Linked DNA regions of Homo sapiens. The protein of the gene in region 1 purifies or fractionates together with the protein of each later gene. This does not show direct contact. Each region holds a gene or a part of one and is shown on either strand. Other genes may lie near its edges.

Region 1 (3,500 bases):
CCATCAAGTTCTGCTGTCTCTATGTAACACAGCCCATGGGGCTCACTGCTGGAAAGGAGGAGGAGATCCGCCTAGAGAGAAAAACTAATGAGAAGTCCAAATATGCAAACCTCCACCCCCAGTGGGCTGTAATGGTGGCTCCTTCCACTAAGCATTCTTGGTTTGCTTAGTTCCAGGTGCATAAATGGCTAGTTCCAGGCATATCAGCATGACACAGAAGCCCCTGGTGTGAGAAAGATTCCTGCCACGGGTGTTTAAGAGGCAACAGTAAATCAGGAAAGATTCATCCTTTTCTCACAAAGAAGAGGAAGAACCTACAGGCCTAGAGGGGTACCCTGTCCCTTACCGCCACAAACTGGTTATTTTCTAGCTTGATAATATCACCAACACAGACATTCATCCACTGCTCCTGCTGGAGGCTGAGGCAACGAGAAGACAGTGAAGAGGCTGTCAGGAGCTAAAGAGGTTCCTAAGGGACCCCCTTCGTCCCCAGAGCTCTTGTCTCCAACAGGCACTCACATTCCATTGATCAGCACCTGAGACTGGCGGTTATTCACCTGGTTATCGCTCTTGTGGCGGAACTGAAAAGAAGAAAACTGAAAGGTAAGACACCTTCCCCCGCCTCGAAGGAATTCGTTGATCAGTAGAACTCAGAGCATGCTGGTTAACGCCTCATACACACCCCATCACAAACCAGTTCACTCCCTGATTCCCTCTCCCCACGCTCAGCAAAAAGACATCATGGATCTAGCTGGACCGGGTAAGGGATGTCAAGGTCACCAAGAAATTGTGCTGGATGAAGGTGGCCATGAGATGGGGGTGGGGCTGGGAGTAGGGGTGGGTGACTGGGACAAAATAGAAGAATGAAAACCACTCACATAGTCATCAGTGGCATCTTTAACAGCTGTGATGGTGAGGACAAGAACCAAAGGCACAATGGTGGTGAACCAGGACAGGGAAGAGATCTGGGGGATCAACTGAAAAAAAGAAAGAGAAGTATGCCTCTGAGGCCCCATCTGATGCCTTCATTCCCTTTCCTCTTCCTTGGCTTTATTCAGTTTGGGGAGCTGCAAAAAATCTACTATGGGTCACCTACCTGCAGAATGAGGAGGAACAGGAAGTAAGTGTTGGCAACTTCCTGGAACTGCTCAAAGAGGTTGACAGGCAGGAAGGTGAGAATATTGTACTTGGAGGTCTTGATGCAGTTACTCTATGGCAGTAGGAGAGAAGATAATGAGCAGTCTCCAGTCCCAACCCAGAACCAGACTGAGGCTGCCTCCCCCATCTTTATACTTCCCCAGACCTCTACCCCAAAAGCTAGCAAACACAGGTGTGGGAGGGGGAAAGAGGAGGAGAGAAGGGAGTCTCAAGGGGGTCAATGTATTCTGCTTCACTGACAGGTGAAGGCATGAAAAATTCAGCACGATAGCAGATGGAGAGTGGCTGAGGAGGTTGCTTCCCCTCCCCCAAGCACTCTTCCCAGGCAGCCCTCAGTCCCAACGGTAGGTTGTCCTTGCCCCATTCCCCTCTCCAAACAGAGAGAGGGAACAGGTGGTCTAGAGTCGCTTACCGCATACTGGAATTTCTCATTGTATTCTCGGTCATTAGCCCGCGCCCTCCTTTCTTCTTCTGCAACAAAATGATGCTGCAGTCAGGAGGAGCAAACTGAGGTCTGGACCAACACTTTGCTGGGGGGTTCCCTGTTTTTTTCCACAGAATATCATTTTAAGGAGTTAGCTCCACAACTGAGGGGGTCATCAAATTCTTCCCTCCAGTCCACCTCTCACCAGCAGCCTGACCACACGGCTCTCCAGGTTACATTCACAGGACAGGACATGTTCTCTTTTCCTCACCACCAAACTTCAAGGTCTTCCACTGGAAGCACCCAGTTTGTCTCCCCCACCCCCACTCCAGAGGAATCTGAGCCACTGACAGTCCTGGGATTCCCCAGCCCCTTTTGCTGCTATTACTAATGCATACATTGTCATAATCAAGGAGTAGCGCTGAAAACGCAAAGCTTCCTTCCCCCTGGGGACCACTGCAGATCTAGTCGCGGTACTGCTCTCTCCCTTATTTAGAGAGTGGGGTAGGTGGCAAGAAGGAGGCTCCCTGTGCCCTGGAGCTGCTCTGCGGGAGCATCCCAGCCCCATGTGCAGTCCCCCCTACAGGAGCCTCTGGTTGTCACATGTCACCAGCAACTGCTTCTGACTGGCCCGAAATGACATCACCTTATTTCAAAGCTCATCTTCAAGTAGAAAAAGGTGTGGGGGGTGCGTTTCAGGGATATGGGTCATGCAGACTGAGATAGAGATAGAGGAGGGAGGAATGAAATGTAATTGAAACAGTTGCTCTCTAACTGGACCTTCCTTGTACCATCTGCACACATTTAGCTTTAAAGGGCTCATCTGTCACTCAGTTAGTGACACCTATCTAGCTAAACCTATCTGAAACCTCTGCAGGTCTGGGACTGCAGGCATCAAATTCATGTCCCAGAACAAGGAGCTGTCCTATAATAGATTCCCCAGCCCGTCTCCCCGGGGGTCACCATGACCTCATGCTGCAAAAAGGGGTAACTTGGTTAGGCAGCAAACCTAATGCCTTAAGCCTGTCCGGGAGCCAAAGACAGCATTCCAGAACCCTTTCTACACACCCCAGGACCCCTGCAGAGCACACTGCAGTAACAAAACCCAGGCCACAGTGCCCCCTGCCTACCAAGCCACTTCACTCCCATAAACTTCCCTAGAGGGGCTCTCTTGGGCCAAGTCCCCTGCGCAATCACCAAAGACCATGCAAACGAAGAAGGTAGGGACTGGATCCTTCGGAGCCAGGATCTCTGGGTCTGGAAAGAGGATCAAGGCAGGTAGGGGGAGGCTGGGGACAAGTGAATGTAGGGATTGGAGGGGGGAAATAATGGGTGCGGGAGAGCTGCCAGGCGCTGCCTCCCGTTACCTGTCCCCCAAGAGGGCTTCTTTCGGCTCCAAGAGGGAGGCGCCTGGGCCCGGGCCCACTTCTCGGGCATCTCCTTGGGGACCGTCATGATCCCGGTTTGAGTGGGGGAGGGCAGACCGTCTATATGTCCTTGGCCTTAGTGGCATCGACGGGGCGGCTCCCCGGGGAGGTGCAGGAGCCGCAGCCGCTCAGAGGGGAGCCCCAGCCGTCGGGCGCGCGCCCCACCCGCAGCCCAGGCCATCCTCCCGGCCGCCGGCGCTCGGGGACACCGCGAGCTCAGCTGCGCCGCCGCCGCCGCCCCCCATGCCCCCCGGCGGATGCCAGCGTGCGCTGAGTGGCCCCGGACACGCCGAGCACGCCCAGGGTTCCGCCCCCGCCCGCTCCCCGACTGCAGGAGCCGCAGCCTGCCAGCGCGCCGCGTAGGCGAAAGCTCGCGCGCGAGCCCCGCCTCCCCTCCCACCCCCGGGCCGGGCCAATGCGGGTGAGCGGACTGCCGGCGTTGTCGGGGGCAACCGCTTTCACACACACACACCCCCGCCCGCGGAAAAACC
Region 2 (3,480 bases), about 45 Mb from region 1:
AAATTCATTCTGGGCTATTTCTTAACAGATTTAACAGCCTAAGACAGAGGCAGGCAAACTTTTTCTGTAAAAGGCCAGATAGAAAATATTTTAGGCTTTGCCGCCCATATGGTATCTATTGCAACTGCCCAACTCTGCCATTTAGTAGGGAAGCAGCCATATAGATAGTATATAAACATATGTATTGATGGGAAAATGAAAATGACTTCATTTACAGAAGCCGGCACTGGGTTACAGTTTGCTGTCCCCTAGCCTAAGACGTGATTTTTTTAAGGTAGTTCCTCATGGGGTTTGTACATATTTCTAAAGATTTGTTAAGTTACACAGTTGATGCCTGTTAGATTATAACCTTGAACTGTCATACTTAGATACAGTTGACCTTGTCTTTTATCCTTGTGACCAATTATAATTAAAACAGTATGACTTAACATAATGCACGTACTAAACCAATGAAGCAGCTATACCTATATAAGCCATTTTAAAGGAAAAATTTTATGCAGTTTCAGGTTTAAAGATTATTTCTTTCAGAAATCAGGCTGGGAACTAAAGAGAACAATATAAAAACAAAGATTAATTTCTGAGAAGCCCCAAATAAAAGTTTACAACTGCGTTTTCTTGTTGTGACTGAGAGATTTAACATAGCTTGGTGCTTTCTTTCCCACAGTATGTCTTTTAATCTCTCTCATAAACTTCTAGGGATCCAGATTAGATGATCAAAGATGTGCTCCACCACCTGCTACCACAAAGGGTCCGACAGTACCAGATGAAGACTTTTTCAGCCTTATTTTACGGTCCCAGGGAAAGAGAATGGATGAACAGAGAGTTCTTTTACAAAGAGATCAAAACAGAGACACTGACTTTGGGCTAAAGGACTTTTTGCAAAATAATGCTTTGTTGGAGTTTAAAAATTCAGGGAAAAAATCGGCAGACCATTAGTTACTATGGATTTATTTTTTTTCCTTTCAAACACGGTAAGGAAACAATCTATTACTTTTTTCCTTAAAAGGAGAATTTATAGCACTGTAATACAGCTTAAAATATTTTTAGAATGATGTAAATAGTTAACCTTCAGTAGTCTATTAAGGCATTAATACTTCTCTGGACATGCGCGTTTGAGGGTGGAGGGGTCCTGTAAGGTGCTTCATCGTCTGTGATTACTGCTTGGGATGTGTTCTTTGGCAGCTTGTGAGATTACTTTACCTAGTGTTTATAAAGTAGGAAGTTAAGTGAATCATAGATTAGAATTTAATACTCTTATGGAAATAATTTTTTAACATCTTAATTGACAATGGCGTTTTTTTATACATAACCATGGATGTAGTGGGAAACAATGTTGTTTGGTAAAAATAATGTACTTGATCAATGTAAAAAAGTATATAAAATAGTCTTACTAAAAATCTAGGTTTTTTTTTCCTCCATGAAAATCTGTTTTTTTAGGCCAAAGTCAGTATAAAAGAAACTCTACTTCTTGGGCTGGGCATGGTGGCTCATTCCTGTAATCCCAGCACATTGGGAGGCTGAGGCAGGAGGATCGCTTGAGGCTAGGAGTTCAAGACCAACCTGGGCAACATAGACCCCCGTGTCTATGAAAAATAAATCAGCAGCCAGGCGCAGTGGCTCACACCTGTAATCCCAGCACTTTGGGAGGCCGAAGCGGGCGGATCACTTGAGGTCGGGAGTTTGAGACCAGCCTGGCCAACATAGTGAAACCCTGTCTCTACTAAAAATACAAAAATTAGCTGGGCATGGTGGCATGCGCCTGTAGTTTCAGCTACTTGGGAGGCTGAGGCAGGAGAATCACTTGAACCCCTGGGAGGCAGAGATTGCAGTGAGCTGAGACCAAGCCACTGGACTCCAGCCTGAGTGACAGAGCAAGACTCTGTCTCAAAAAAAAAAAAAACAGCAAGCATGCTGGCACACACCTGTAGTCCCAACTGCTTAAGAGGCTGAGGCAGGAGGACCACTTGAGCCCAGGAGGTGGAGGCTGCACTGAGCTATGATCGTGCCACTGCACTCCAGCCTGGGTGACAGAGCAAGACCCTGTCTCTAGAAAACAAGTATCTTTTGTGTGTTTTGGGCTGTTTAAAAAAATTATTTAAAATGGTCTCTTCTGTTCCATAATACTGCTGTAAAACAAACTTTTCTAAGTTCTAATATAAAAACAAAAAACAAAACCCATGTGGTTAGGTCAAGAACCTAGGACACATAAACAAACAGAAAACAGATGAAAACTCACAAAAATTAAATATGAAAGAAAGATGTCAGCTAGAACCTTAGTTGTCATTAAGCTTTGTCTTCCTTATCCCAGATATTGAAGGCAGTTTACAAGGGGATGATAACAAAGTAACTAACTAACTGTAGCAAAAGACAAGTATGGGACAGACTGGGACCTGGAGTAACACTGGATCACAGACTGCAAAGGCCCACGCTTGGAACAAGTTGCCAACTTGTTTCACTCTGCTTGCTTCAGACTGTGCACAGCTGGGATGGGATCTGGGGATGTGGACCCCTATTCTTTCAAAAAGTCATTCAGGTGATTTGGATGGGCAAATAGAACTATTTCTCTAATGGCCAATGTTTTTTAAGAGTCATAACCTGGAATTAATTACATTAAGTGCTCAGCTAAAAAAAAAAAAAAAGTTCTAAATTACAACCTGGATTACATTATGTTTCATGTATACTATAAGGTATGATGTCCTGGATAGCATTTTAAAAACTCAGGTAAGTTTCATGGGGTTCTTATAAGAAAATTCAGTTAAGACAATATACCAAACCACAACGTAAAAAGTTTGTGTATACAAACTTTTTGTATTATTTGTACACAAAGTACAAATTTGTATTTGTACACAAAGTACAAACTTTGTGTATTATTTTGTGTATACAATAGTTCTTACAGCCTGTAAACATTCAACATTATTCCATTTAAACATTGTTTTTAACAGCTGTCTACCCTGTTCTGATTTTCCTAAAAGCTTCACACTATATAGGCTGGGCACAATGGCTCATGCCTGTAATCCCAGCACTTTGGGAGGCCGACAAGGGCGGGTCACTTGAGGTCAGGAGTTCGAGACCAGCCTGACCAACATGGTGAAACCCCATCTCTACTAAAAAATACAAAAATTAGCCAGGCATGGTGATGCACATCTGTAATCCTAGCTACTCGGGAGACTGAGGCAGGAGAATCTCTTGAACCTGGGAGGTGGAGGTTGCAGTGAGCCGAGATTGTACCACCTCACTCCAGCCTGGGTGACAGAGCAAAACTCTCAAAAAAAAGTAAAATTTCAAAAAAGCTTCACAATATAAACCTTAATTTTAATGACATATTGGCTAGTCAATAAACAAGTCTTATCTCATCTCATCTCTTTTCTGATAACAAACACCCGATGTGTTCAATTTGCTTTCATATTTAAGTCTTTCCTGAATTGCTGTCATCATTCAACAACAGTTGCATGTCGCCTTGCTAGCTGTCAAAGTAGACTT

Evidence for each region. Proteins that work in one complex are often made in the same cells at the same time.
Region 2: the proteins of ATP8B2 (region 1) and CLCC1 fractionate together in Homo sapiens (co-fractionation; one large-scale study listed by BioGRID). This does not show direct contact.

Annotation. Positions count from the first base shown.
Region 1 is NC_000001.11:154,328,525-154,332,024, reverse strand, and holds part of ATP8B2 (phospholipid-transporting ATPase ID), read right to left. Parts: intron 3,228-3,500; exon of another isoform or gene 3,038-3,227; coding exon of another isoform or gene 2,950-3,037; intron 1,630-2,949; coding exon 1,571-1,629; intron 1,211-1,570; coding exon 1,097-1,210; intron 978-1,096; coding exon 879-977; intron 582-878; coding exon 520-581; intron 420-519; coding exon 347-419; intron 72-346; coding exon 1-71. UniProt on the Homo sapiens protein: Catalytic component of P4-ATPase flippase complex, which catalyzes the hydrolysis of ATP coupled to the transport of phosphatidylcholine (PC) from the outer to the inner leaflet of the plasma membrane.
Region 2 is NC_000001.11:108,929,005-108,932,484, forward strand, and holds the end of CLCC1 (chloride channel CLIC-like protein 1 isoform 1 precursor), read right to left. Parts: 3' UTR 937-3,480; coding exon of another isoform or gene 697-936; 3' UTR 501-696; downstream 1-500. Other genes in the region: GPSM2 (G-protein-signaling modulator 2), read left to right, coding at 697-936. UniProt on the Homo sapiens protein: Anion-selective channel with Ca(2+)-dependent and voltage-independent gating. Permeable to small monovalent anions with selectivity for bromide > chloride > nitrate > fluoride.